Regions from separate parts of the Homo sapiens genome. Here regions 2, 3 and 4 are each linked to region 1. The links come from fine-mapping of genetic effects on gene expression. A gene starts in region 1. Each other region holds a variant in brackets. All regions are shown on one strand. Distances are from middle to middle. Region 1 holds the start of LARP4B (La ribonucleoprotein 4B). Region 2 overlaps LARP4B (La ribonucleoprotein 4B). Region 3 overlaps LARP4B (La ribonucleoprotein 4B). Region 4 overlaps LARP4B (La ribonucleoprotein 4B).

What was found.
Region 2: its variant is fine-mapped to the expression of LARP4B in whole blood (TOPMed, PIP above 0.99).
Region 3: its variant is fine-mapped to the expression of LARP4B in whole blood (TOPMed, PIP above 0.99).
Region 4: its variant is fine-mapped to the expression of LARP4B in whole blood (TOPMed, PIP above 0.99).

What each region holds. Positions count from the first base shown.
Region 1 is chr10:928,544-935,883 of GRCh38, reverse strand. It overlaps LARP4B (La ribonucleoprotein 4B), which reads left to right and starts at 4,179. Exons shown (of 18, transcript NM_015155.3): 1 at 4,179-4,456. It overlaps LOC124902363 (keratinocyte proline-rich protein-like), which reads right to left and starts at 3,893. Exons shown (of 2, transcript XM_047426111.1): 1 at 2,769-3,893; 2 at 1-1,048. The coding sequence starts at 3,757. The coding sequence ends at 3,053. LARP4B-DT (LARP4B divergent transcript) reads right to left here and starts at 2,858. Exons shown (of 3, transcript NR_120629.1): 1 at 2,769-2,858. RefSeq lists silencers at 3,599-3,688, 3,769-4,478, 4,549-4,658, 4,689-4,768, 4,859-4,988.
Region 2 is chr10:803,145-810,484 of GRCh38, reverse strand. It overlaps LARP4B (La ribonucleoprotein 4B), which reads left to right. Exons shown (of 18, transcript NM_015155.3): 18 at 1-988. Among named protein-coding and RNA genes, the nearest start is that of DIP2C, 120 kb to the right of the region's middle. RefSeq lists enhancers at 190-690, 691-1,191 and a silencer at 928-1,133. The variant C/T (reference allele first, on the strand shown) is at 3,837.
Region 3 is chr10:822,510-829,849 of GRCh38, reverse strand. LARP4B (La ribonucleoprotein 4B) reads left to right here. Exons shown (of 18, transcript NM_015155.3): 10 at 116-169; 11 at 256-465; 12 at 3,980-4,086; 13 at 4,534-4,785. Among named protein-coding and RNA genes, the nearest start is that of LARP4B, 110 kb to the left of the region's middle. The variant C/T (reference allele first, on the strand shown) is at 3,046.
Region 4 is chr10:840,684-848,023 of GRCh38, reverse strand. It overlaps LARP4B (La ribonucleoprotein 4B), which reads left to right. Exons shown (of 18, transcript NM_015155.3): 6 at 2,969-3,047; 7 at 4,956-5,092. Among named protein-coding and RNA genes, the nearest start is that of LARP4B, 87 kb to the left of the region's middle. The variant T/C (reference allele first, on the strand shown) is at 3,380.

The DNA of each region.
Region 1 (7,340 bases):
AGCTGGGCATCATGGTGCATCCCTGTAATCCCAGCTACTCGGGAGGCTGAGGCAGGAGAATCACTTGAACTCGGTAGGCGCAGGTTGCAGTGAGCCAAGATTGTGCCACTGCACTCCAGCCTGGGAGACAGAGGGAGACTCAAAAAAAAAAAAAAAAAAAAGAAAAGAAAAGAAAAAAGAAAAAGAAAAGAATGTTCTCAGACACCACTTGAAATGTAGGCCTCTGCTAGAGAAATACACATGCTGTATTTGTTTGGTAGAGACTTTGTCCCAAGATCACTGCCCTCGCTGCCTCTGCCCTTGAGGCCTGACCATTTCTTTGGGATGACAGTAGTGTCAGCTGAAAATTGTATGATGTGATGTAGCTCAACAGAGCTACAAACAAGTGCTAATAATAGGGCCCAGAAGGAAAATCAACTGTCTAAAACACTTCAGTGGTTGACATTTGGGCTGTAACTTGAAAAATAAGCGAGATTCCGCCAGAAGGAGACATCCAAGTACAGGAAGCACATTTGAGGCCAGGGGACTCACATCCATTAGGACCTAAGTGCTCAGGCTCCAAAAGAATGCCGCCCTCGACTTCCAGAGCAGCGCAGCGTCTGGAGCTGGGGCACCTCTCCATTTCTTTGTATAGGACTGTCCACACTATGAACTGTGGACTTACCTGTCAACTGTGCAGTCTGGAGTGTAAAGTCTGTATTTTATTCAAGTGTAGACTCATCAACTCCCTCAATACCTTCAAAAATGCTCGGAAAGTGAGTGTGATTGGAAGGTAAGGATGTCTTAGGATAAGGCAGGAAAGGAAACACAGGGGGCTGGGCTGAAGACAGGCTGGGACTAGCGTGTGAAGGGTCTTCTTTCCACAGGAGAACTTGGACTTTATCCTCCTGGGCAGGCAACGGGGAGCCGGTGAAGGTCGCATTGCAGGAGGATGGTGATGAAGCTTTTTAAGGAAACATGTGCTGGCACTGTGAGTAATGGACTGTAGCAGAGACCAACCGCGACGCCACTGAATCAAACCAGGTGAGCAGTAACAACGGCAAAACCACTGGGGGGACGGGGAGAAGGAAAGAGTTTTTAGGTAGGATTGACAGAATTTGTAACCACTTGACATGGGAAATGAGGGAGTGTATCTGATCATGGTTTGAGAAATTTATACTAAAGTTTTAAAAAACTGATCTTGTCTAAGGAGAGATGCCATGAAAATGTATTTCATGTTATAACCTCACATCTCAAGGTGAAAATGGATGTTTCTTCTGAGACACAGGTTTGAAAAAAAGAAGATCATGAGGGAACAAAAAGCCCAGTTCTGATTGTTGGAAAGGATTACACAATACGAAGAGAAAGAAGAGATGGAATTCTTTTAGTTTTAGTTTTTTTCTTTTTCTTTTTTTGAGACAGGGTCTCGCTCTGTCACCCAGGCTGGAATGCGGTGGCACAATCACAGCTCACTGCAGCCTCAACCTCAAGCGATCCTCCCACCTCAGCCTCCTGAGTAGCTGGAACCACAGCCATGCACCACATGCCCGGCTACTTTTGTATAATTTTTTAAAGAAATGGGGCTTTGACATATTGCCCAGACTGGTCTTGAACTCTTGGCCTTGGGCGATCTGCCTGCCTTGGCCTCCTAAAGTGCTGGGATTACAGGCATGAGCCACTGAACCCATCCCATTACTTTCTTTTGTAATAGGTAAGACATAGATGTCTGCTGGAATGTAGACATAGACAAAAAAGATTGAAGTTTAACCTACCAGCCGGGAACGGTGGCTCACGCCTGTAATCCCAGCACTTAGGGAGGCTGAGGCAGGCGGATCACGAGGTCAGGAGATCAAGACCATTCTGGCTAACACGGTGAAACCCCATCTCTACTAAAAATACAAAAAATTAGCTGGGCGTGGTGGCATGCGGCTGTAGTCTCAGCTACTCCGGAGGCTGAGGCAGGAGAATCACTTGAACCCGGGAGACTGAGGTTGCAGTGAGCCGAGATTATGCCACGGCACTCCAGCCGGGGTGACAGAGGGAGAGTCAGTCTCAAAAAAAAAAAAAAGTTTAACCTACCAATTTTGGGGCAGAATTCCTAGACTTATACCACATCAATGGCCCTAGCAATGTTATGAACCAAGAGTAAGCTCCTGTAGGTTATCCGTGGAGGTAAAGGAACCAGGCACCTAAGCAAGGACACTATGGCCTACTGGTCAGGGCAGGTTGTCCAGGTAAGCAAGTTTTCTGAAATATGTACATGCTTTTAATATTAAAGGAAATGTGTCTTATGTCGTTAAATGTTCTTTAAAAACATTACTATGAATATAATTATTTAACTTGCAAATTCCCTTAAAGCTAGGATGCAACAAGGTTTCACAAAGAAGGCACCCAACCTTGATGTCAACAGTCTACCCACTATGGGAAGCCGGAGAGGCTTTCTTCCAAAATGCAGAATTGTCAGCATTTGAACGCTGAGTACGAAAAATTATAAGCACAGGCTGGGTACACCGGCTCCCATCTCTAATCCCAGATTTTGGGGGCCCGAGACAGCACTCTGAGCTCAGAGTGCAGACCTGCATAGAGCAAGACCCTGTATCAAAAAACAAAATTAAAAAAGCAGTTGTAAGCACAGGTACACGGTTAACCATGAATATGGTATCCCTGAAAAGCCGTTTTAATGGGGGAACAAACCTAAAATTTGGAATAATTGATAATATGTGTATATGTAGCCAATCAGAGCAGAAACCAGAAAATCAGGCAGCAAGCTTAAGGGAAACGCAACATACTTTGTTTGGTTTCCTTTTCTTCCATAAACTGATCAGGGGTAGGTAGAGTATGCTGCTATAGTTCGGAGTCGTCACCATCCTCACGGAAACGGCAGGAGTGTGAACACCTCCCTGAGCTACCAAGAGCATCTGACTCGTTGCAACGTGGGCCCGAACCCAGCGCCTCTAGGAAACGTGGGGCCGGGGCCTTTTGGTCCCGGGTGTGGGTTGGGGGTTTGGGGAAGGGCCGGGGCCTTGATCCCAGGTGTGGGGTTGGGGATTCCGGGGCTGAGCCGAGGCCTTGGTTAGGGGTGTGGGGCGGGGGTTCGGGGCAGTGCCGGGGCCTTGGTCCCGGGTGTGGGGTTGGGACTTCGGGGCCGGGACCTTCGTCTCAGGTGTGGGGCGGGAGTTCGGGACAGGGCTGGGGCCTGGGTCCCTGGTGGGGCGTTCGGGGCAGTGCCGGGGCCTTGGTCCCGGGTGTGGGGTGGGAGTTTGGGGCAGGGCCGGGGCCTGGGTCCCGGGTGGGGCGTTCGGGGCAGGGCCGGGGCCTTGGTCCCGGGTGTGGGGTGGGAGTTTGGGGCAGGGCCGGGGCCTGGGTCCCCGGTGGGGCCTTCGGGGCAGGGCCGGGGCCTTGGTCCCGGGTGTGGGGTGGGAGTTCTGGGCAGGGCCGGGGCCTTGGTCCCGGGTGTGGGGTGGGAGTTCTGGGCAGGGCCGGGGCCTTGGTCCCGGGGGTGGGGTGAGGGGTTCGGGGCAGGGCCGGGGCCTTGGTCCCGGGTGTGGGGTGGGAGTTCGGGGCAGGGCCGGGGCCTGGGTCCCGGGTGTGGGGTGAGGTGTTCCGGGCAGGGCCGGGACCTTGATCCCAGCTGTGGGGTGGGAGTTCGGGGAAGGGCCAGGGCGTGTCCTGGGTGGCCAGGGTCGGGGCCTGGGTCCTGGGGGTGGGATGAGGGGTTCGGGGCAGGGCCGGGGCCTTGGTCCAGGGTCTGGGGACAGGCTAGGGCCGGGGTCGCCATCCGTCCTGGGCGGCGGGCAGGGGTCTTTAAGGGGCGCACGCGGTGGCGGAGGACCAGGGCCCAGCCCTCCGGAAGTCAGGGCCCACACGGCCCCCCAGCGTCAGGCGCTCCGGTCGCGCCGGGGACGGCGGGCGGGGCGGGCGGGGCGGGCGGGGCGGACGTGCGGCGTGCGCGGGGCGGGGCGATGTGCGCGCACGCGCCAATCGCAAGGCCGCGAGCAGGGTGTACGCGCGGAGAGGCCAAGAAGGCGGCGGGGCGGGCCGAGCGTCGGGTGCGCCCAATCAGCGCGCCGCAACACCATGACGTGAGGCTCTCCCGGGGCTGAGCGCCAGTCCGCGGGACCGGCGGGTGAGTGCGCGAGTTCAGGGCGCGAGGCGCGGGTCCGCGCGGGGGCGGGACTTCCGCAGGGCCCCGGAAGTGGGAGCTGTGTGTTCTCATGCGAACGGGAAGGAGCGTTGGGGATCTGGAGTCCCGGGGTTGAGACATTTTCGGGCCCGAAAGGGGAAGAATCCGCCGCCGCCGCCGCCGCCAGCTCGCGCCCGCCCTCTCCCCTACCTCCGGCCCGGCCCGGCCCGGCCGCGCCGCCTCTCCCTGCCGTCTCTCTCCTCGCCGTCCCCGCGTGTGGCGCGGCCGCCGGGCCCCGGGGTTGAGGCGAGGAGCCCGCGGGCGGCCGGTCGGGCGGGGCGGCGGCGCTGACAGGTGAGGCACCCTGGGCCGCGGCGGGCCGTCCCTCCCGGCCCAGCTCGGACCCGCGCCGCGCCGCCTGTCACTGCGCCGCCATCTTCCCGGAGGACGCGGCCGCGGCGGGCAGGGCCGGGCCTGGGCCGGGGCCGGGGCCGGGGCAGGGGAAGGCCGGGGCCGGGTTGAGGAGGACCGGGGCTAGGGCACGGGAAGGGCCAGGGCTGAGGAGGACCGGGGTCAGGGCCAGGAAAAAGCCGGGGCTGAGGAGGACCGGGGCCGGGGCAGGGGAAAACTGGGGCTGAGGATGGCCGAGGCCGGGGCAGGGGAAGGCCGGGGCCGGGGCTTAGGAGGACCCGTTGAGGCGAGGCGGGAGTCGACGGAGCTGGGTGCCCGGAAGACCGGGCCGGGGTCAGGGTCGGGAGGCCGGGGTTGGGCGAAGGCCGGCGAGGACGGGGGTCGGGCAGGGCCTGGGCGGGGCCGGGGTCGCGGGCCGCGAGCGCCCCCAGGCCGGGCGGGCGCCGGCACCCGCAGTGCGGCGCCAGCCTTGCCACTCGCTCCTCGGTCCCGCCGGAGCCCGGATAGGCGGCCGTGCGGGTGCGGGGCGGGACGGGTCATCAGGGCATCGCATTCCTTTAGAACCAGGAAGTTGGGATCCTGTTGCTCGGTGTGTGTTTGGAACGCTCCTGTTTTCCTGTTGATAGACTTGAGCAGAGGTGGATCTGAAGGAGTTAAAAAAATAAAGTCAGATGTGAAGATTGCCTGTGTTGGTCTTGGGGCTGGGATACATGGGCGGCAGAGAAGCCATCGGAAAGCTGCTGCACCTGCCTCTCAGGGTGCGCTTGGGAACGTGAAGAGTCTTTCCGTTTCAGTGCCGTTGTGCGTCGAAACTTCATGCGAATGTAATTTTGCTTTTCCCCTTATTTTTACGTAAAACGTTCTTAAAACTTGGCTGAGATGAAACTTGAGAAACCTAGCTGTAGAAAACTACCTCCTATCTGGCTTTCGTTTGAGATTCTCTAAGTGGATGCCCAATAACTTGTCTTAATAGTAAATTGGAAGTTTGAAGTTTTGGATAACTGAGAAAACAGGAAGGTTTTCCTTGACAGGGCAGTGGAGTTTGTAAGTATAAACAGTATGCGTGAGGCCTTTTTCTAGAGATGAGAGCAACTCCAAGGTGAACATTGAAGGGGACAGACAAGTTATTTTCCCTTTCGAAAGTTTTTTTCTCTTAGTTTCAGTTGTTTGAATATTTAAATGCACTTGAAATAGGTGCTGAGTTGTAGTTTGTGAAGACCACAGTGGGGAAGAGTGGTGTCCTCTTTTTTCTTGGTGGTCAGGTGGTGTGTGCAGTGTGCAATTTCCATACTTCCCCAACCTGCCTGGCGCCCCTCATTACAGTCAGGGTAATTTACAGAAGTTGAAATCGTTGTGGCTTTTCAGTTTTTTCTCCTTGTATTTAATATGCTGAAAGGCAGTTTTGTAATCAAACCATATAAGAAATAGCTTAATTGAGGTTTGCTAAGTGAAATGCGTTCCGAAAGGCATCAGATTAACAAGCTTATTATTTAATCATAAATTTAATTTGTGTACTTATCTTTGAAACTTGCATTGGTTAGAAATAAATTTTATCCGGTATTTTGAAAAGTTAATGTGAGTTGAGTTGACTTATTTATATGAAACAAAGGCATGGCTTATTCATTAGAAGTTACCCTCGTGTTGCCTACATTTTCTCAATTGTAACAGGGGGATGATGATAATCTCATTTTCTTAGGACTGTTGTAACACAAACATGGAAATGTTGTCTGGTTTTGCTATTTTCACTATTACTGATTTTTTTCTTCCCCCCCCGAGTTGGAGTCTTGTTCTGTCACCCAGGATGGAGTGCAGTGACACGATCTCAACTCACTACAACCTCCACCTCCTAGGTCTTCAAGTTATTCTCCTGCCTCAGCCCCCCGAGTAGCTGGGATTTACAGGCACATGCCACCACACCTGGCTAATTTTTGTATTTTTAGTAGAGACGGGGTTTCAGCATGTTGCCCAGGCTGGTCTCGAACTCCTGGCCTCAAGTGATCCACCTGCCTTGGCCTCTCAAAGTGTTGGGATTACAGGAGTGAGCCACTGCGCCCAGCTTACTGAATTTTTAAAATATTCTACCTTGTAGCTGTCAATCTATTAGCAGAAAGTTTTGTTTTTGTTTTTGTTTTTTTGTTTTGTTTTTTTTGGCTTGTTTACACATGTATCTGGGCAGAGAAAACAGCTTCTGAGCACAGAATGCATATTTGGAGAAAGCAGTTCCACTCTTTTTGAGTAGGAACCAGACAGAAAAAAAGATAACATGGGTACTATTCTGTAGAAGAGTAGCTGAAATTAAGTGGCAGCAAATTCAGGGAGAAATGTAATTTGGTTTAATGTTCGGGAAGATTGCCATTTTTAAAAGTGAGATTTAAAGAATTTATTGAATTTAATGCAATTTCCATAAGTAAGCACAAGTTTTGACAAGTATATATTTAAGGTGTTTTTATGAAGCAGTCTTCACATTATCTTAAAATGTAGTTCTAAAATACGTGCAGGCTGGGTGAGGTGGCTCATTCCTGTAATCCCAGCACTTTGGGAGGCCTAGGTGAGTTTAGGAGCCCAGGAGTTCACCAGCCTGGGCAACATAGAGAGACCTCATCTCTACCAAAAAATCAAAAAATTAGCCAGGCATGGTGGCTCACACCTGTAGTCCAGCTGTTGGAGAAGCTGAAGTGGGAAGATCGCTTGAGCTTGGGAGGTTGAGGCTGCAGTGAGCCATGATCCTGCCACTGCACTCCATCCTGGACAACAGTGAGACCTTGTCTCCCCCCACCCCCAAAACATGCAAATTGGGACATCAAATTGTTAATGGTGTTTACAATGA
Region 2 (7,340 bases), 130 kb after region 1:
GCATTAGCCAGTCGCCACTGGAGGGCTCTGCTGCCCTCCGGTCAATACACTGTAGTTACTGCCTAGCCAGCAGCAGTCTTCTGCATCAAGAACTGAAACGTTGCTCGGAGGTGATTTTTATAGCATCCTTTTTAATTAAAGGTGAAATACAGATTGCTATATAATGTCTGAAAAAACCTGATACTACTTCAAGAGTTTCTGCTCAGAAGAAAATGAGAGTTATCATAATAGGAAGCTGTGGCGGTCCATGCCAACTGTGCTGTGTCACATACAGCGATGAGAGTGGCTTTCATACTTTTTTTTTTTTTAAGTTAACACCCTCCTTTACCCCCAGCAGTATCTCAGGTTATAGAATCAGAGATGCAGCAGTGACAAATGGCATTTTAACTTGTAAAATCGTGTGATGATGCTTATCATTTTGAAATAGAAGAATAAAAACCTGGTCCCGTTTCACCAGACATGAATTTCAAGTGGAGTCGTCGTTCTCTGAGAGTGAGTGTCTTGACATTTTCACCCAGGCCCTCCTGTCATCACATCACCGGCTGTCACTGGCGGGTGGCCGTAAACGTCCTGCGTTGCTATATTAGGATCTCTGCAGTTCAGGCTTCAAAACCAGTTCAGTGTATCCGGGCGACGGGTAGTGGTGGTGCATGCCTGTCTGTGTGCCCCGCTGGCGAGCTGTAGTTGCGGCTTGCGTGCCTCGCGGCCCACTACAGGGCTGCAGACAATCGAGGCGAGGGCGCTGGCCGCCAGCAGCTCACAGCGCGGGGGTCATGTGGTCGCTCCTCGAGGGTTTCGTTTTTGTTCTGCTTCATTAAGACTGGAATCAAGCTTACATGTAAACTATTGGTAATTTAAGTTTCCTTTTGTGTCATTCAGTGTAAAACTGTCTAATTTGAAAAAAAATGTAGGTTATGAAAATAAAGATTTAGGCACTGTTCAATTTTTCTTTTGATTTTTTTTAAATTAAAATTTCTTCAATAATGCATCTTTTCTAAACATAGTTTTTTGTCTGTTCCCATAAGTGCATGAGAAAGAAACACGGGCCTCATATATGATTGGATCCTAAAGCCTTCTCACCTACGTGGGGGCTGGCTGTGGCACACGGGGCTCACCCTTTGTGTTTTAGTGGTTCAGAGTGAGCATTAACATCAGATGCTCATGCGGAGACAGCCATTACTGTGACTGCCAAGATGTACTGCAAAAATACATGTTCCTGTATCAGGACTTTGATTTTGTTAAAATGGCACTCTCTCCAAAGCTGTGTCCATGAAGCTGTTTGGAGCTAACGTTGGGTCTTCATGGTGATGGACTCATCCTTAGGCAGCAGTGATGTCTGCACTAGGAAGAGGCTGGCGGGAGGCGGGGCCCCTCCTGTGCCAGGCACCGAGTGGATGGGGGACTGATTAACATGTTGCTGCCTTCCTCCTCTGTGCATTGCCTTTTCATGTCGTCTTCCCATTTTTACTCTTTTTCTGATGGAATTAATATTCTTGATCTGTTAAGGCTATTAATCCTTTGTCATATATGTTACAAATATTTTCTTTCAATCTACCATTTGTCTTAACTCTTTATTTAGAATAGTATCTTTTACGGTGTTTAATTATTGTGTAGTAAAATCTATCAATCTTCTCCTTTGTTGAGTGTCTTGGACTTGCTTAAGAAGCCTTTCCCTACTCCAGGGTCATAAAGTTAATAGTGTGTGTGTATGTGTGCGTGTGTGTGTGTGTGTGCGTGCACACGCACACACACACACACACGCTTTTAATCCAGCTGGGCCTAATCGTGTGTGTGGTGTGCGTGCTTAGGCAGGAACCCAGTTTTACTTTATGCCATGTGGAAAGTTTCTTTTTCCAGTATCACCAGTGAGTTCACTGTCTCTCCACTGGTCTGCAGTGCTGCTTCTGTTACTTGCAGACTTCCCACGTGTGCATGGATCTCCACCTGGGGTCTCTAGGGTCTCTATTCTACACTGCCTATTTCCCTTTCTGTCCTAACACCATAGCATTTAACTCACCCGTCATCCTGTGTTGCTGAGAATTTCCTTCATAGAACTCATCAAAGTATGATTAACTGTGCTCCCTGAGGGCAGGAATTATGCCATCTGGATCACCAGCCTCTCCCTTGTCCTTAGCACGCCATCTGCAAATTAGCAGATACTCGGTAAATGTGTATTAACTCGAAGTATATTTTGTGTCTTCTCTGTGCACAGCACTGCCCTGGGAAGAACTAGGATGAGGTATTGACTTGCTGTTGCCACATAACAAACCCTGCCAGAACTCCCTGGATGGAAGTGACCACCGTGTATCTGTGGATTGTCTGCAGGGCTCTGCTGGGGTCAGCAGGTCCCACAAGAGAGCCAGGGCTCGGTCTCCTCATGGCTGTCAGAGGTTTACGTATTCCGCCTCCACCCACCAAAGTCTGAAGTTGTTGTATTCCATTCCTTGCTATATCCACATCTTTTAATAATGCTAAAATCCCGTGTTTCTCTAAAGCATTGGATTGAACCAACTGAAGAAGGACCACGTGTGTTGCTGGGCCTGCTTGGGCACAAGCCGTTTCCGATCCAAGTCAACTGCTGGTCTGCTTAGACGAAGGTGTGTGGGTGTCTCCACCACGGAGAGGAGGGACAGCAGGTGAGACCATAGGCCAGGAAGGAAGGGCACAGCCTAAGCGTGCAGTGGCTTAGCCAGAGACCCTCGTGCACCAGCCTTCAGGTGCTTATGGAACTTATGTCAGCCCAGGCCATATCCAAGTGTGTGATGTCTCGGAGCATATATGCCAGGCCAGCCGGAGAGGCTTAGCCCTGCCCTGGTGGAGCTGGAGGGCCGCAGGGCCGCCCGGTGGGGTCAGGAGGTTGTGAAGAGGATCCTGATACAGGCTGGGCCTCCCTGCAGGCGTGAGCCCCGGAGCACGGGGTGAGCAGCTCCACCCAGAGGGGCTTGCAGGACCAAGCTGGGACAGCAACCACCAGGCCCTGGGGCAGATCAGTGAGCGTCCAGGAGATGCAGATGCAGAAGACAGCCAAATTCATTCACCTCTGCGTGGGCCTGTGAGGGCCCACAGAGATGCATTTTCATTCACGACCAGGATTTCCTCGGCCGGAGCAGCCGCTTTTCCCAGCCGAAGCTCACTGTGTTTACTACATAGGATGTGAGTGTATAGAAAGACTCTCTCTAACGTTAGCTACGCGTGCAGAAATGTGGGGCGCTTACAAGTGTGGGCAGCCGCAGCCTGTTCCTCACCCCTGTCCTAACGGGACATACTCCACGCATGCACATTTAGGATCACCGTGTCTTCTCGTTGGACTGATCTGTCATTAGGACCCTGGACCCAAGTAATTGTCTTTGCTCTGAAGTTTTGACAGTAACAAAGGCATTCCAGCTCTTTCTTTTTCACTCCTGTCGGTGTAACGTGCCGTTTTTCATCCTTTGACTTTTAGCCCGCCTGTGCCCTGTCTGAAGGGAGTTGTCTGTGGACAGCACGGAGTGGTGGGTGTTTGTAATCCACTCTGCCAGCCTCAGTCTTCTAACTGTTGCGTATGGACCAATTACATCTGCCCTTTCTCTTCCCTGCTGCTCTGTTTCTTTTTTCTCTTTGCCTTCCTGGAGATTGTAATTTGCCAATTCTCAGTCCTCTCGTGCTCTCAGCTCCCAGTTGACCTTCTCCTGCTGCTGCGCCTCCCGTTTCCTGAGGCCAGTGGGGGCAGTGCCCTCTTCAGTGTCTGCCCTTTGCTACTGGGTAGTTTCTTCCAGGCCCACACCTTTCTACTTCGTGCAATGCCGCACTTTCCATGCCAGCTGAAATCCATCAGCCTGGAAGCACAGAGGCCGCAG[C/T]CTGGGCCCGGGGGCAGGTGCAATGTACTGTCCCCTGCAGAGGAAGGCAGAGCTCCATGCTGCTGTCGGGCCGGGCCACCGTGGTGGCAGCGTCCTTGGCAGGCAGCAGGAGTGTGCGGCAGCTGGGAGTGTTGCAGCCAGACATCTTAACCTCGGGGTGGGGGTGGGGAGACGAGTTTCTTTTTGTGTGGCTTTGGGAATAAGGAAACAAGTTGCCAGTAAATTGCACATCTTACTGGCTAGATTTAGGATCCAAACGCCGTCACGGGGAAGGGGCTTTCAGGTCAGTGAGGTCCATCCTGGGCTCAGGAGTGGGGCCACCTCCCCCAAGGTGCATGGTGACTGGAGAGAGGGGTCCCTGAACAAAATTGGGGCCATTAAGAAAGAAGGGGTAACTAATACGTCCACTCAGTACATTCGAGCTCCTCAGCCCCAGCCTGCTCAGCCTCCAGCCCATGTCTCACTGTGTCCTTGGCGTGGCCACCTGCAGTCAGTCCACATTTCAGATGGGACCACCCACCCTCCGGCCTGGATCCTCCTGCTCCTCACCGGAACCCCATCTCCACGGGCAGCCCCGACGCAGACAGGCAAGCCCAAATCCTGGGCCAGTCTTGGTTCTTCCCCAGATCCTTCCGAGAGTCCAGCCCGGCCATCTCGTCGCCAGTCTCCCTGCCCCGTTCTCCACCTAGCCCGAGGGTTCTTTTGTGGTAGTGAGCGCGCCCTGTTCCCTTGCTTTAAACGCTCCAATGGTTTCCTGCAGGAAGAAATAAGGTTTAGACGCGCGCCTGCAAGTCACTCCCCAACCCACCTGCAACTTCATCCCTGACCCCACACTCTCTGCCCATGCTGCCTGGGACCTGCTGGCCCCTTCCCGTGGAATTTGTTTCTCCCTTCCCAGAGATGCCTGGCGCCCTCTCCGACAGCCGCCTGTCCCCGGCTGCTTCTGCAGCACTGAGCACCGTTTGTAGTCGTCTAATTGGTCTACTTCTGGCGTGAGCCCCTTGGGCCTGGCACCCGTGAATGCTCTTCCCCTGGGTACCTGCAGCACCCCCTGGGCAGGGGACGCTTCCGGGTCCATTCCTCGCCCGGTGTCCAGACGCTGTGGACAGGTGCCAGAGGCAGCTCCGCAGAGGGCGCTCCGCAGAGGCCGCCAGGCCGCGTCCACAGCTCAGCCAGTGCAGGTTCAAGTCCCGGCTTGCGCGCCCCTCCCATCCCTGCGTGGGGCGGCCTCACCACGCACACCTGCCGCCGTCTGTGTCGGCCTCTCCCTCCATCCCTGCTTGCGCCCTGGATCCCCGTCCGCCTTTTTCCGCGCAGCAGCCCGGGGGTCCTTTGCATCCCCGCTCAAAAGCAGGGAGGCACCCACGCACCTCGCTCAGAGCAGAGACCAGAATCCAGGCGGCTGGCCGGAGGTTGGGCCCCGCGCCCTCGGCGTCCCCTGCACCCTCCAGGCCCCCCACGCGCCCTCGACCTCCAGCCGCCCCTCCGAGGCTCTGGAGCTGCCTCATAGGAAGTAAACCTAGAGGGAAAGGTCAGGAGGGATGGGAAGAGCCCCCGGCCACCTGGGAGACGGGGGAGGGCGGGAAAGAAACCATCAACATAGAGCAAGCCCAGGGTGGAGCTCACGTGGGTTCGTGGTGTTGACACTGCAAGCTGGAGAGGCGGGGAGAGAGGAGCCCGGGAGAGGAGAGGCAGGGTTCCTCTTTTAGCCAGAGGAGCCCAAAGTGACAGGAGGACGTGGCCGCAGCCAGGGTTCAGGGGCTCCAGCCACGCCGCACGCCGGGGATGTCACCAACACCCACTTAGGCCATGGGAAGCCATCAGCTTCCAGATTCTGAACACAGAGTTTTATGGTACCCTTGACAAGAGCAGTTGTAAAGAAGCATTTAAGTAAGCATTTTCCCCGGGTGAGGAGAATCGGCACAGCTTGAGGTGTGAGACACTGGTACTTCTGTGCAAAACCCGCCCTGTGGACAGTGGGTTTGTGGTATCCTAAGGCTGGGAAGGCATCTCGGAGGTTTTCTCCTTGCTGCAAAAACGCCTGTCACTGCCCAGGATACATATTTTGACCTCATCCTTCCTATTAGAAACTCAGGCGGTCCCGCCCCGTTGGCAGCCAGAGACCTCAGGGTGGCGCCTGGTGGAGGGACCTGCTGGGGAGGTTACCCTTCCTCAGGGCACCCACCATCCCCGGCGTAGGTCTACAGGGTCCTCCCTGAGGAGCCAGGGCCGGGCTCATCTGTGTCACATCATGCCTGCTGCTCTGCTGTCGCACTGGAGCGGCAGAGGCAGAGCCCGCCCCACCCTGCAGCTCCGTGTGACCCCGGCTGTGACCTCCCGGGTGGGTGGCCCTGCCGCAGGAGAGCCACTTTCAGAGATGCCCTGAGTGATCGTCACCAGCTGCATCCTGCAAACTTCATCTTGCTGTCCCTGTGGCTTGGAGAGCCCAGTCAGCTTTGCTTGTAAACATACATGTTACTTACAGTTGTATTTGGTCATGCCAGATGAAATTACTGTTTTTAGAGGTCAAAGTGAGCAAGTAGCAACTTTATATGGTTCCAGCTAATATTTATGTTACATTTATGTTCTGATGAAACACTTTTGTGCTACTGACCCATTTTTGTGGATGACTGCAGAAAATATACTGAAACTTAATGATGACAATGAAAACCTCAAACCTAAATGTAAAATAAAAAACATGAAAAAATGGTGGCAGAGCTCACCATCTTAAATGCTTTAAGAACATAGTATTTCTGTAAAAATCATGATTTTTACATTTCAAGTTTGTTAAATTTTTTGCTTCTTCCTTCTAAACTACAGGCGGCTCACCCACCAACCCTGTGTTCACTCCCACTGGCCACGAATGGGAGGGAAGGTGGCGTGGCCCCTCTGCACAGGACTGGCCCTCCCTCCCAGCAGGGCTGAGCCTGCAGAGGGCACAGAGTGAGCTGGGGGGTGCCCTGCCAGTGACTCAAGTTGGGAGGGGCCCTGCGTGGCAGAGTCTAAGGGGCCACCTGTCCTAGAAACATGCACATCTCGTGGGCTGCTAGTGCAGAGCCCCGAGGAGCTTCAAGGTGAGAAAGGCCAGAGCATGCTCCCAGCCCAGGACCGCCTCGGTGCCCACACCTCCCTTCTGTGCACAGACAGGACAGGGCAGGACAGCCGATGGGAGGTGTGGAGAGGTGGGGATCATGGGCCCTACCCGTCTAGACAGCAGGAACCTAGGTGGACCCTCCACGTCTCCAGGAGAAGCCGCCTTCGTTTCCTGAACAGATGGCCCCACCCTCGTGTCCTTCGCCCGCCTGACCTCTGCTTTGGCAGGAGGAGGTATTTCCTGCCCTGTTTAGATGCCATTCGAGCCCGAAAGACCGGACCTGGAGAGACAGGGCTCGGGGAAGACTGGGTCAGGGTGGGGAGGAGACAAGCTTCACGGTGTGCTGGCCGTTCCATGGGAGGAAAACCGCCAACCCCCCTCTTGGAACTGCCATATGGGCTGCAAGATGG
Region 3 (7,340 bases), 110 kb after region 1:
TCTGTTCACCATAATTTAATTATATATTTCCCTATTTGAGCTATTGAGTGAACTATTGGTGCCTCTTATTCATAAGGTTAATCGAATGGAATTTTGTACTTAATTTTGCCCTTAGGCTTACAAATACCTTCGAGAAGAAGTCAAAACTTTTCAAGGAAAACCAATTAAGGTAAGCAAGACCATTGGTTATACTTTGTTTATTTGCAAATTGATGTTCTTAAGTATTCTAATAGAAACTTACATATTTTCAAACAGGCACGGATAAAAGCAAAGGCAATAGCTATAAACACATTTTTGCCAAAGAATGGATTTAGACCCCTGGACGTGAGCCTGTATGCCCAGCAGCGCTACGCGACGTCGTTCTACTTCCCTCCCATGTACAGCCCCCAGCAGCAGTTCCCCCTGTACAGCCTGATCACTCCCCAGACGTGGTCAGCAACGCACAGCTATCTTGACCCACCCTTGGTACGTCATTTCTTTACTAGGAATTTATGTTGTAGACACTATGCTAGATAATTTGAAGGATTAAAATCCTCATCTAATAGGAAGCCAGATATGTGTGCAGTCTGACATACTAAAACAGACCTTCAAGTTATGTGGGGGATTTTAAATGTAGCTGAGAACAGAGCTTATGCATAAAGAACTTTGGATTGCTGTGAGCACAATCCTTGCACAGCCCGTCTCCCCTCTTGTCATGCAGCTCTTAGCAAGACGCAGAGGGCGATAAGTGCTGTAGTGTACCTGGCGTCCCCTACACAGAGTACAATGCAAGGGGGATTAACTGAGGAGGAAGAGGTGTTTAATAGGCTTCTGACAGCAAGGCCAAGGAGAAGGCCTGCTGTTTTACCAGCCTTATTTTACTCACTTCTCACCAGCATTAGAGTTGGTCGACAGGATTAATTTTTATGGATTTTGGCCTTTGTTAAGGCCTATGGTTGGAATTCATAAGTCTGTACTGGATCTAGACATTGTCTCTTTGTGTGCTGCTATAGATGCTTGAAAGATCAAGTGCATTCTGGGTGGGAATTAGCATGAGTTTGGTGGCATTGGATGCACGAGAGTCAGCAATACACGGATGAGCATGTCCTTGAAGCTGAAGTCTAGTTGAGAAGTGAAGATGGGTTCATGGCCTAGAGGTTTGCATGAGGTAGCAATGCAGGTTAGTTGGAATTGGAGAGATTGAAGGGTAGCATACATAGAAGGTTATGGTCAGAAAGCAGAAATTGAGTTAGTAACTTTGAGAAGAGTTCATGTCCAGGGTTTCGCTGTGGACTAAGGGAAAGACTGAGTGGTCCTCAGGGTCGGATGGCTGGGAGCCAGGCACCCTGATGTGCAGGGATGTCACCGCTGACAGGCAGAAAAGGAGGGTAGGTGCAGAGCAGAGAGAACTTGAGAAAACAAGTGCCTGTATACACGGAAAGTAAAGATACGGGTCCATGAAACAACTCAGGCTGGAAAAGTCAAACATGCCAAGGAGACACGTGTACAGAATGCCAGAACACTGACAGGTCTTATCAGGGATTGTGTTGTCATCTAGGTTGAGCTTTTCAGGTTAAGTATGAGTTTTTCAGAAGGAATCAAAGAGAAGTTTCATGAACAGAAGATGGTCGTAGATTCATGGGTGTCTGAGCTGAAGCGTACACCGGGTGGCAGGGAGTTGGGGAACGAGCTGGCAGTTTCCAGGCCTAACTGCGCAGGTGCTTAGCTGTCCTGAGGCATGTGGGCTTTGGCCTAGTGCTTGTGGGAAGGTGTCTGAGGTTTCTAAGCGGAGAAATGAAACCATACTCCATTTAGAAAATAGCTCCTAAGGCCGTGTGAAGGGCAGGTGGGGACAGGGAGAGATTTTCAGAGGACCCCAATTCCCCCTGAGTCTGGAACCACCGCAGTGTAAGAACCTTTGGTAAAGTTACTTCTGTCTCTTTTGAGTAAGTCCTGATGGTAAGAAAAGTTTCTGGCTTTTTGAAGTAGCACATTCTATAAAAGTGTACCCATAGCTGAATACTTCGTTTTCCCAAAAGCATATCATGAGAGAACCTCAGAGAGACTTGAGTCCGTAGGCTCTGGGTGTTGAAGAATCATCGCTGCACGTGGCTTGCCATGCTAGTCCTTTCAGTTCTTCCTGCAGCAGTTGCTTCTTCCGTTTCTTTAATCATGGTTGACCCTCTCGGGGATCCTTGGGGTTCTGGGTCAGCTTATGGCCTTGACTTATGTTGTATGTTCAGGTTGCGGTGTGTGCCAGACAGCTGGTCCTGCTCTGAGTCTGTGATACTGGGGCTCTCCATCGCAGCCTTTTACTTGTGCTAAAACATGTGCGTCCTTTGTTCTGCAGCTGAAGAGATTGTGCCTATTAATCCCCAACAAGTAATAATAGGAACGCATTAATAATCAACTTTATTTTTTATATATGACCAATTTTATTTTTTATCTTGAGCAAAATTACTGGAATATCAGGGCTCTGTCTGTAAAATGACTTGCTGGAAATGATTAGTCCTCATTGCTCTGCCCATGATTTACAGCCTCAGATCCAGGTCTGCATTCATGGCTCTTCAAGTGTGATGTATTTTCTTTTTCTTTGAGACAGAGTCTCTCTCTGTCGCCCAGGCTGGAGTGCAGTGGCCGGATCTTGGCTCACTGCAAGCTCCGCCTCCCGGGTTCACGCCATTCTCCTGCCTCAGCCTCTTGAGTAGCTGGGACTACAGGCGCCCGCCACTACGCCCGGATAATTTTTTTGTATTTTTAGTAGAGACGGGGTTTCACCATGTTAGCCAGGATGGTCTTGATCTCCTGACCTTTTGATCCGCCCCCCCTTGGCCTCCCAAAGTGCTGGGGTTATAGGCATGAGCCACTGCGCCCGGCCATGTGTGATGTATTTTAAAAAGTCCGATTCTTACAGAGTGAAGAGTTTCTCAAGTAGCAAATTGAAGATTCTAACTTCCCTTTTGTATGATTTTATTTTAGTCCTAAGCTATAATATTCTTTTTCTGTTATATCTTCCAGTTAGCTCTAATTAAGGAGAATTACTTGCTTTTTTCCTTTCCTTTCTCT[C/T]TTCCTCCAAACAAGGAGGGCTCTATGCGTATCTCTGTCACTTTAGTGACATTGAGGGTGTGGACTGGAAGGCCCTCAGGAACTAAGTGCCCTGTGTCAGGAGCATAAGGAGCGAGATATCAGTGATGCAGAACGTATTGGAAACCATGGGTCCAGAAGCCAGAGAATTAGAATGAATGGTCTTGAGTTTTGTTTGTTTGTTTGTTTTTAAAGGAACTGTTTTAACAATAAGTTTTATCTTATTTTTGTATGTGTCTAGATTTTAAAAATAGTTGGCCGATACTTAAAATTCTATGCTCAATATTTTTAACTACTTAAGATCTTTTAGGGGTTCTGTGACCCTTTCTAATTTCTTCTGAATCTTATGTTAGTATATTTGCATGCCATACTTACCTTGTGACTTGGGGAATAATGATGATCTGAAAATACCCTGATCTGCAGAGCAGGACTTGTGTCGGGGTAAAGGTAAAGGCCCTGTCAGGCTGTGGTTGGATGAAGCCGAGTGAGCAGCAGTGGGTGTGCAGGTGCTCCTAAGATTGAGAATGTTGATGAGTTGTATTAAAGCCATCAGGAATCAAGAACTGTTGACTTCCTGCCAGTGATGGAGGTCGTATCAGACTGACATGCTAAAGGTTACAACACTTGTTGGAGCCCATGCGCTCTTGACCACGTCTTTCCTCTCAGTGCCTGCTTCCGCATGTGTCAGTTCTCCTCGCTGGATTGTTGTAAGGATTGGCTGAAAGGATGCACAAAAGCTCCAGCCTACTTCTAAACAGCACCCATTGGTGATAAAATTGTAAAATACATGTCTCAGCATGGGTCATGACTCTGACAACATCAAGAAATGCCCTCAGTTTCCACAGATTTGTTGGTATTAATGAAATTGAAGTCTGTTTTATGGTTTATTTACTTGTCTGTTTTCAAATGAATCTAGGTAACTCCATTTCCAAATACTGGATTTATAAATGGGTTTACGTCTCCAGCGTTCAAGCCTGCGGCGTCTCCTCTGACTTCTCTCAGACAGTATCCTCCTCGAAGCAGGCAAGTTCCGGGGCGGTCTTAGCAGTTTTGGTCTTTACGCTACTGCCCTTCCGGAGTTGGGATGAGAGAGCTTTGATCACTAGTCCTGCTCCTCGCAGACAGAGCCACCTGAAGCACACAGCTGCATTCTGTAAAGACTAAGCACTACAATCTGGCATGGGTGCCCGCCTCAGATTCTCTGAGAGGAGGCTTTGGGGCAACTTGTACACATCAGGTGTGCCTGATTTTAATTTGGGCCTGGACTGAAAAACAGCTAAGCAGAATTGTGGCACATTGTTAATAGATTTGCATTATCCTATATGTTAGGAGTTAACCATTCCAAATCCTATTTTTATACTTTATTAAACAGAGAGCAGATTTCAGCTTAGCTATTCCATGTCAGTATGCATGTTATGTAATGCCTTGATCATTTTATAACTCAACACATAAAACCATTTTTATTTACAGGAATCCTAGTAAATCTCATCTGCGGCATGCGATTCCTAGTGCAGAGAGGGGACCTGGGTTATTAGAAAGTCCTTCAATATTTAACTTCACTGCAGATCGATTAATTAATGGTGTCCGGAGTCCACAAACAAGGCAAGCAGGTCAAACTAGAACACGGATTCAAAACCCTTCAGCATATGCCAAGAGAGAGGCTGGGCCTGGGCGTGTGGAGCCAGGCAGTCTCGAATCCTCTCCTGGTTTAGGGAGGGGAAGGTGAGTTGTTGAGCAGTTACTGTGTAACATCATAAACTAATATTTTAAAAATTATTTAATTTAGATATGTTTTGTAATTGTCTTTAAATATGTCACAGAAAATCTAACTGAAGGCTATAAACATAAGGGTTTTATATAATTGCTAAGACTTAAATGGCTTCATCTTTTTTGGAATATGAAATGGTTCAGTGAGAACTGTAGTTGTTTTAGATCATTATTTGTAGAAACACTGGAGCTCAATAGCCATAGACTCCATCCCATGTGCCTGCAGTCTCCTCTTGGCAGCACCCCTGGCTCACCAGGCCCCTCTGCAAGGGCGGTGTCCAGGCTCTGCCCCATGGCTGCTGGCCTGGCGCCCTCCAGCTGGGTGTGCACCAGGCACTGCAGGTGGAGCCTGGAGCGGGTAACCAGGCAGATCAGCATTGCAGTCTCATCTCATTGGAGGGTTGAGACTAGCCAGGACGGGTCTTAGCTGTGCTTCCTGCCCACCATTTTTGGTTTTGTTTAACATTTTTTTGGCATCAATCCTGTAGTAGGTTTTTGTTTGTTTGTTTGTTTGTTTGTTTGTTTTTAAGACAGGGTCTCACTCCGTTGCCCAGGCTGGGGTACGTTGGCATGATCATGGCTCACTACAGCCTTGAACTTCTGGGTTCAAGCAATCCTATTGCCTCAGCATGCTGAGAAGCTAGGACTTCAAATGCACACCACCATGCCTGGCTAGTTTTTAAATATTTTGTAGAGACAGGATCTCGCTGTGTTGCCCAGGCTGGTCTTGAACTCCTGGCCTAGAGCCATCCTCCTGCCTCAGCCTTCCATAGTGGTGGGATTACAGGCATGAGCCACCGCACCTGCCCATTGTTGATAAGGCCAGTTGATCTTCTCAGTCCTTGCCTTGGTAAGGACCGTCAGGATTTTCCTCTCATAAGTGACAAACAAGTGACTCAAATACCTGAGCTTTTTCAGGGTGTTCTATATACAATGTGTACAGCACCATCCCTGACGTGCAAGCTCCTCTTCCTGCCTGCCACAGTGCACACCCTCTGTGCAGTGAGAATTCAACATGAAGAGGCATCAGAAGCATCTCATTCCTGCCCATAATGATTCAATGAGCACATAGGAGTTCCTGCAGGGATTGTGCAGTGGCATTGGAAGGCACCATGGTCTGGGAGAGCTGGCACTGGCCTGTGTCTCACAGGAAACATGGCATCAGGTTGGCTCAACAGGCCTTGGAGATGCAAAGCCAAAAGGGGCCCACCGTGTCATGGAGAGTCAGTGACTTCAGGGAGCAGTTGCTAGCCCTGGGTCTCAGTTTGGGGTTCTTAAGACCCAGACGCTTGGAGGGAGGAGGGTTGCAGAGCTGGGGCTCAGACTTGGGACAGAGCCCTACTCATCAAGGCCATGTGGCTCCCTCTGAGGGGCATCAATTGTGGGCACGGTGTGGAAGGAGGCAGACTAGATGGACAAGGCCCCCCGGCCTCAGCCTCCTGTGCTCTTCAGTGTGCCTTGTTCATACGAGCGTCACAAGGAGTTTCCTGGCAAATGAAAGTGGGGCTTGTTGAATTCCAGCTACCTCACAAAATGTATACAGGTGGCTTTGAAGCTGAGAGTCCAAAGCTTGCTGACGAATGTGGTCTACCCAGGATACCCTTCAACAATACTTGAACTTCCAAATGCAACTGTAACAAGTTTATGCTTTTGCCTGACAGATGCAGATCTTGCACCAATGGAGACCCTCTCTCTCCCCACCAAGGGAGGACAACTGTCCTCCCACCTGAGACCTGAGCACTGCGGCAGGGAGTGGTTTAGGAAGCGCACACCAGCATGGGCACGGTGGGCAGGGAGTGGTTTAGGAAGCACGCACCAGTGGTTTAGGGAGTGGTTTAGGAAGTGGTGGGCAGGGAAAGCGCATGCAACTCCTGCAGCCTGTTTCTGCGATGGGTTCTGAAGCCAGAGCTGACCTTCGTAACCTCCTCCTTCCCTCTGTCTTGAGAAAGAGCTTGTGCTGTTTTGCAGGGAGGTGTGCCAGGCCTTGCTTGCCCTGAGAACCTGATCCACAGCAGCCATGCCTCCACCTCCCCTTTTTGGGAGGGTTTGTTTTGTTTCCATTAACTTTCTCTATTGGACCAAAGTGCTAAGATGTCCTGGAGAACCCCTTACCAGAGTCCAGACACATGTCCCTACCCTTGCATGGCGGCCATGGCAGGGCACGGCCCAGCTGGGTTGAATGGCATGAGGAGCCCCAGGCGCCAGGTGGCTGCCTTGGTGGAGCTACTGTTAGGATCAGCTGGGGGAAGCACACCTCTTCAGGGTCTCAGGCCTTCACACCACTGCATTCAGAGTCGCGGGTGTCACAGTGATGTTTCCTCTATGGTGCTGGGACCACCCTGGGTCCCTTGCTACCCCTTGTGAGCTGTAACCCACCATGGCCCTGTCACTGAGCCTTGGCTCAGCCAACCTGCTCTCTGCATGATGGGCACTGACAGCTGACAGTGTTCTACGGCTGCAGGTGGGCTTCTGGGTCTGACACGGGTTACGTGGAGCCCAGTGAGGGTGTG
Region 4 (7,340 bases), 88 kb after region 1:
GCCCTGTGGTTCTCTGGAGCTCCTCCTGCTGTCTGGCCTATGCAATCAGCCTCCCTATCTCCTGCATTCTCTTTTTCTCTTCCACACAGCCATACACTGGGTTCCCACCTGACTTCCCACTCCCTGGGCACAGCCTGGGACTTCCCTCAGGGCAGTGGGCTGGACTTGTGGGGGTTACTTTAATGTCTCATGTCAAGCTGGGCACGGTGGCTCACGCCTGGAATCCCAGCACTTTGGGAGGCTGAGGTGGGCAGATCACGAGGGCAGGAGTTCGAGACCAGCCTGACCAACATGGTGAAACCCTGTCTCTACTAAAAATACCAAAAAAAATTAGCTGGGCCTGGTGGTGTGCGCCTGTAATCCCCGCTACTCAGGAGGCTGAGGTAGGAGAATCACTTGAACCCGGGAGGTGGAGGTTGCAGTGAGCCAAGGTTGCAAGATCGCGCTACTGCACTCCAGTCTGGGTGACAGAGCAAGGCTCCGTCTCAAAAAAAAAAAAGAAAAAAGTTTCATGTCACATAGGAATCTATGTCCTTTGTTGCTCTATGTCCCACATCTGGAAAACTGTCATTTCATCTGTCTTATTTGGTTTCTTGGTGGTTTTAAAGGGAAAGTTAACCTAGCCCCTGTGACTCCATCTACCTGGAGGCAGATGGCCTGTGTCTTACCAACACCATGTGCCCAACCTCCAGTCTCCCTGAGAGCCCGTCTCACTTGTCATTGTCTTTGCTCCTCAGTGTCCTCTGTCTGCAGTGCCGGGTGTTTCTTGCATGGTTGGGTCACTCCCCATCTTTCTAAGGTGGTATTATCTCTCATCTTAGGTGAAGCCACCCCGGGCAGCCCATCTTCCACTGTAGAACACTTCAGCTGTCTGCTTGCTGTCCCATCTCCTTGCTTCCATTCCCTCTTGAGTGCAGTCCAGGTCTCCTTGCTTCCATTCCCTCTTGAGTCCAGTCCAGGTAGACAGTTGTCCTAAGCAGCATTTGTCGAGCTCTTTAATGACCCTGGTGCAGCCAGATCTAGTAGTTAGTTTCAACTTCTTAACTTACCTGGCTCTACTGTGTCATGTTATAGTGGATGATTCTCTTGGCTCCTAACTTCACAGTATCCTAGTGGTCTTCCCACCTTGCTGGCTGTGAGCCTGTGTCCCTTGGCCCTCATGCGCTTGCCTCCTGCTGAAGGTGGGAGTGTCCCGGGTTCAGTCCTGGGCTGCTTTTCTTCCTTCCCTTGTGGCTTCGGCACCACCTATCGCTTGGAGAGTCCTCCCTAGTGCCCTGTCCTCAGTGATTGCATTATCTTCCGGCTGGTGCCTGCACAGTCTGTCTACACCATGGAACCAGAGAGATATTTTCAAAATGTCAGCCTTGAATTGATTTTCTATTACGTTTAGGTTACTTTAACGTCCTCCTTGATCTCACTCACACACACCGGCCTCTGTGACCTCATTTCTTACTGTGTCTGTCACCCCTCTTCTCAGCTGTGCTGGCCTCCTACTGCTGGACTCTACCCCTTGAGAGGCCCCACCTTGGGACCCCTGTGCTTGAGGCTCCCCATTTAGAACACACTTCCCACCTTCCTGTGTGCCCCACCCCTCCTCTATCAGATCATATGGCACTTCCTGTCTGGATGGCACCAGGCCTTGCTGCCCCTCATCCTGGGTTGTTTCCTCAGTGTCCGTTTCTCTCTGACATGATGTGTATAGTTACTGGTTAACTGTCTGTTATCTGCCTCTCCCACCAGAGTGTTGGCTTCACGAGAGCACAGGCTTTGCGTTATTCAGGCTGAATTCACAGAGCCTGCAGTAGTGCCTGGCACTTGGAAATATTTAGTAAATACCTATTAAACATGGGGAGTGGAGTGTGAATTTAGATGAGTGACCCGGAGACACCTTAGTCTAGATGGACAGTGGCATCAGGTTGTGTTTTCAATTTTCCATTTTCAGTCTCATTGAGTCCCATGATTTGGTTTTGTGTTATGGTTACTTTAGCAGTTTTGGTTTCTTTTTGCTGATGGGGGTGGATTTTTACTAAGCTCATTGTATAACACCATACAAACTCTCTATCCCTCTCATTTGTCCTGAACGCCCCACTTTGTCTTTGCCTTTTCATGGTCTTTAACTTTGACTTTTAAGATACAAGTGTCTCTTGTGTTAGCATGGCTCTTATATGATTGTACCATGCTAATTTATATAGGAAGGCAGGAAAAACTTAGTTCTTAGCATTTCAGTGCCTGTCATCGCAACATTATTAAAATACCTCTTTATGCAGTGTCCGGAGTCCAGCAGTTTATGCAGTGTCTTCTAGAGCTCCAAATTCACAGCCCTGTGCTGCCTGTGACCACACACACCATGCCCTCTGGCATCTTCTTAGAAATTTCTTCCAGGATTTAGAACCAGCTTTTGTTTCCTCTTGAAGATCTGGTTTATTTATCATTCTCTTACAGGAATTCTGTAACATGACAATTCTCACTTGTTCCTTCGACTCTGGAAGTTGGAAGGCAAATTGAAGCCTCTGTTGTAGAAACTGTCTAGTCCTAGAGCCTGTTTGATCTCCAGCCTTGGTTTTTTGCTGGTTATCTTTGTTGTTGTTGTTTTAATTTTTTCCTCTGTATTTTATTATTGTTTAGGGTTTGTGTTTGTGTAGGTTACTTGAAAATTCTTTTTGCAGTGAGACAAGGCATTAACTAAGCTTACACTTGTCATTTCTGGTAGAAAAAGCCCCTGCTGAACTCTGCTAATGAGACTTAGATTATTTTTCTAAACTGTGCTGTTTTTGTTTTGGGGGATAAAGGGATAGGTTTTTTTGCATGATTTACTTTTTTGATAGGTAAAGTAGCATTTTTCTTACTTAGGATACACTTACGTAGTTGTGTCAGAACGTAAGTTGAAAGCATTAGAACTGCTGTACTGAATTATCTGCTTCCTAAATTTTAAGCCGGTTTTCCTAAGTTGATTATTACTTTTATGTAGGAGGAAATGAGTCTCAACCAGACAGCCAGGAAGACCCCCGAGAAGTACTTAAAAAAACATTGGAATTCTGCTTATCTAGGTAAGGCTGGTGGTGGTTTTTCTAGTACCTGATATTTCTAGTATTGTGCAAATAGTTAAAGTATATACAAATGTGATATTTTATGAAGGAGTATCTACTCATATCCATATATATGTATATGAAGACGTGGAATATTGAGTAATGACAGTCTTTTGACATTTGAGCATGGAACGTAACCTTCATGTCTGTGGTCCCCAGTGGTCTCGGTGGTCACTGTCTGGAATGCGTCTAAAGTGCCCCGCCCGCCCTGTGCTGCCGAGTCAGACTTCCTCACACTGAAGTTGGAGAACAAGTGTGCCACGTTGTTTCTGAAAGCACACCAGACACTGAGA[T/C]AGCAAGTTGTTTTATTTATATAACACTCATTTTTAATCATTTTTCTTTCCCCTGAATAATACCCTTTTCTTAGTAAAACCTTTAAAGTTCCAATGGCAGAACTGGACATAAAGGAGGATGGGATTGGGTTTGATGTAATTTCTCTGAGTATGACAACAACCGATGGGCCGTGTATAAGGTTTTCTGTCGATGATGATTTTCCAGGTGTTTTCTCTGGAGCCCTGAGGATTCCACACAGGTGTCTGCTAGGGGCTCCTTGAAGCCTGTGGGGTGTATGAGGTGGAGGTGTGAGGGGCTCTGCTGGCCTCCTCCCCATGCCCATGCTGTTCCACGATTGGAGTCTGAGAATACCGCACCATGACATGGTAGACGCAAAAGGTGCAGGGGCACCAGTGGAACGCCCTAGTGGAGCACAAGTGTGAGCTCTCTGCCACTCACATCCATGTGTAGCCCCATGGGGCCAGAATCAGCTACACCTGGAAGATGGCCGAGATGAGGGTGGAGCAGGGCCTCCTCCTGCATGGCCTCCGTTTGATCGGCAGTCATGGGCCTTCACCGAGGGACACTGAGCAGAGGCCCCAGGAACCCAGCACTGTGCTCAGTTTTGAAATGTTTCTTAGGGCCTTGTTCACTACATTACATGATGCCTTGAGAATTCACAGGAAACATTGATCTTTGGCCAAAACACCAGAAAATAGCTCATCATGGCCCAAACTGCTGATGATTTGTGGCTCACCTTTGGATTTTGTGGGTAAAGTTACTGTTTCCTTCTTTTTAATTCTGGCTGCTAGGAAGCCAGGGCTGGATATAGGCCCTCTGGTGAGTGTTCCAGAGTCTACAGGAGGAATTTTGGGTATGACCTTATCCTGGCCTTTTTATGTTTTCCTTTCTTGTTCATTGAGCTGGATTTCTTTACTTTAAATTGTTTTTCTTTCTTTTTTTTTGAGTCAGAGTTTCACTCTTGTCGCCCAGGCTAGAGTGCAGTGGTGTGATCTTGGCTCACTGTAACCTCCACCTCTCGGGTTCAAGCGATTCTCCTGCCTGAGCCTCCCGAGTAGCTGGGATTACAGGTGCCCGCCACCATGCCTGGCTAATTTTTGTATTTTTAGTAGAGATGGGGTTTCACCATGTTGGTCAGGCTGGTCTTAAACTCCTGAACCCAGATGATCTGCCTACCTTGGCCCCCCAAAGTGCTGGGATTCCAGGCGTGAGCCACCGTGCCCGGCCTAACAAAATTGTATGCATTTTTAATAAACTCTTAAGCTACTTCTTAGGACAAAAATGACAGCTATAAATAATTACATCTTATTTAAAAATAACCATCTTCTCATAAATTTTGATTGTAGAAAGTACAGTATACTTTTACTTTTGCACTCCCTGCCTCTCCAAGGCCGAGATTTTGCAAAAATGTACCTGAGGCTGGAGAGACAGCAAATAACAGATGGGTCCTGGGCTGAGATTTAACTCCAAAGCAATACCATGCCACACTCACGCCTCTTGTGAAACTGGAATTACAGTAGGTGAAACTTCCTTTTAAAGAAATACTGATTAAAAGAGATTGTTTTCTTTCAACAGGGAGAACCTTGCTAGTGACATGTATCTTATATCACAGATGGATAGTGACCAGTATGTGCCAATCACAACGGTGGCTAACCTCGACCACATCAAGAAGCTCAGCACTGATGTGGACTTGATTGTGGAAGTGCTAAGATGTAAGTAAATGACAATTTAAATTAATAATACTTGTCCTTAGAGTATTTGTCTTATCAGCATGAACCTTTAAATCTATAGCCATCAAACGTTAAGGTCCTTGATGGCGAATCAGATTCTTTTCTGGCCTTCCGTTCCTTTCTGCCCAGGTCCAATAATTCTGGAGTAGCGCCTGATAGTCCCTGGGAATGCCAGTTGAACCCGTTATGAAACCTCAAACAAGTTTTGGGACATATGAAGTAGAAAAGAATCTTGTTAATGGGGATTTTAAAGATAGCTGTTTCATTCATGAAAAACAAAATAAAAATAACATTTATAGTTAAAGTAAAATACACTTTAGTTACAGTTTTACCACTAGAGGTTTTTCTTTCAAATTGCAACTTCCTGTTTATGTTCGGATGAAATAATTATTGCAATTTTTCTTAAAATTATGTTGTGGGCCAGGTGTGGTGGCTTACGCGTGTAATCCCAGCACTTTTGGAGGTCGAGTTGGGCGGATCATGAGGTCAGGAGATTGAGACTGTCTTGGCCAACATGGTGAAACCCTGTCTCCACTAAAATACAAAAAATTAGCTGGGCGTGGTGGTGTGTGCTTGTAATCCCAGGTACTTGAGAGGCTGAGGCAGGGAAATCACTTGAACCCAGGAGGCGGAGGTTGCAGTTAGCTGAGATTGTGCCATTGCACTCCAGCCTGGCGACAGAGATAGACTCCATCTCATAAAAAAAAAAAAAAATTATGTTGTGAGTGAAGTTGTTTCTTTGAAGTTTGGCAACATCAAACAGTGTTTAAGCATTAAGTGTGGATGGTGCCCCTACATAGTTTTGAGTGATTGGACATTGCTAAGCCTGACTTCAAGTCTCAATTAAGTCCACTGCCTATACTCACATAGAAGGGTTTTCACGTTGTCCCTGGCTTATCTGTACTGACGACAGTCTGTGCAGGTTTTTTTTTTTTCTTGTATGAATTTGACTTTACAGTAGTATAAAAAAGTGAGCATCTTACATGAGAACTTAGTTGGATTTTCTTTTCACAAATAAAATATAAAATAAAAGTTTTATGTTTTTCTGTTTTTAGACAAATAGCATGGGTTATTAAATTATTGGAGACAGTGAAAAAACTGACAAACATAATTACCATTGACTGTGAGTTCTGAGAGCGGCACTGCTGTCTCCCAGGATGGCGCCGTGCTCCCTGGTGTCATCATGCAGAACAGAAGCTGTTGTCTGTGCCAGCTGAATTGGGCCCCATCTTTGAAAGGCCAGCAGCATTCTTGTCCCTGTTTGTACTCTGAAGTCTTTTTGGTTATGATTAGGAGTTTCAGGTTTAGTTATTCCTTTTCGGACAGACCTTGCAAACGCTGCTGCCCCACTGGGATGATTTCTCAGTTGATTGTTACTGGCAAGGGGTCGTTTCCACCAACCATGAGGATATTAAATTGCTCTGTGTGCTTGCTTAACAGAGCCCACCTGCCCATAGGCGATCCAGGGCAGGCTTGTCACCTATTTCGTCCCATCTCCTCCCGCCTTTTTTATGACTTAACTTTTATCCATTTGCACTGAGCTCTTTAGTTTCTCATTTTGTCTTTTTTCACTCGATTTTTGGACAGAAATGTACATGCCTTTGTAAGAACCTATGTGACAAGAATATAGTTAGCAAGTTATTGCATTCATTGTAGCTCTTAAGAGGATGAAAATGTCATAAATAGGTCCGCAGGAGCAAAGTTCTCATCTTACTTTTTTTTTAAATTAAGTTGAATGGACGAATGAATTTATTTATTTTTGAGATGGAATCTCACTCTGTCGCCAAGGCTGGAGTGCAGTGGTGTCATCTCAGCTCATCGCAACTCTGCCTCCTGTGTTGAAGCAATTCTCCTACCTCAGCCTCCCAAGTAGCTGGGCATTACAAGCGTGCACCACCACGCCCAGCTAATTTTTTGTACTTTTAGTAGAGACGAGGTTTTACCACATTGGCAGGGCTGGTCTCAAACTTCTGACCTGAAGTGATCTGCCCACTTCAGTCTCCCAAAGTCCTGAGATTACAGGTGTGAGCCACCATGCCTGGCCTCATCTTATGTTTAGATCTTGTGCCCAAATTACCTAGCAGAGACTCAGACACACAGCAGATATTTGATGAATATTTAATTTTATCTTTTTACAAATTAAACTCAAGATTGTCTGAATGATTTTCCTTTGAATAGTGCAGCTCTTGTGTTAAGTTGCATAAGTTACATTTCCAGATTATTTTTAATG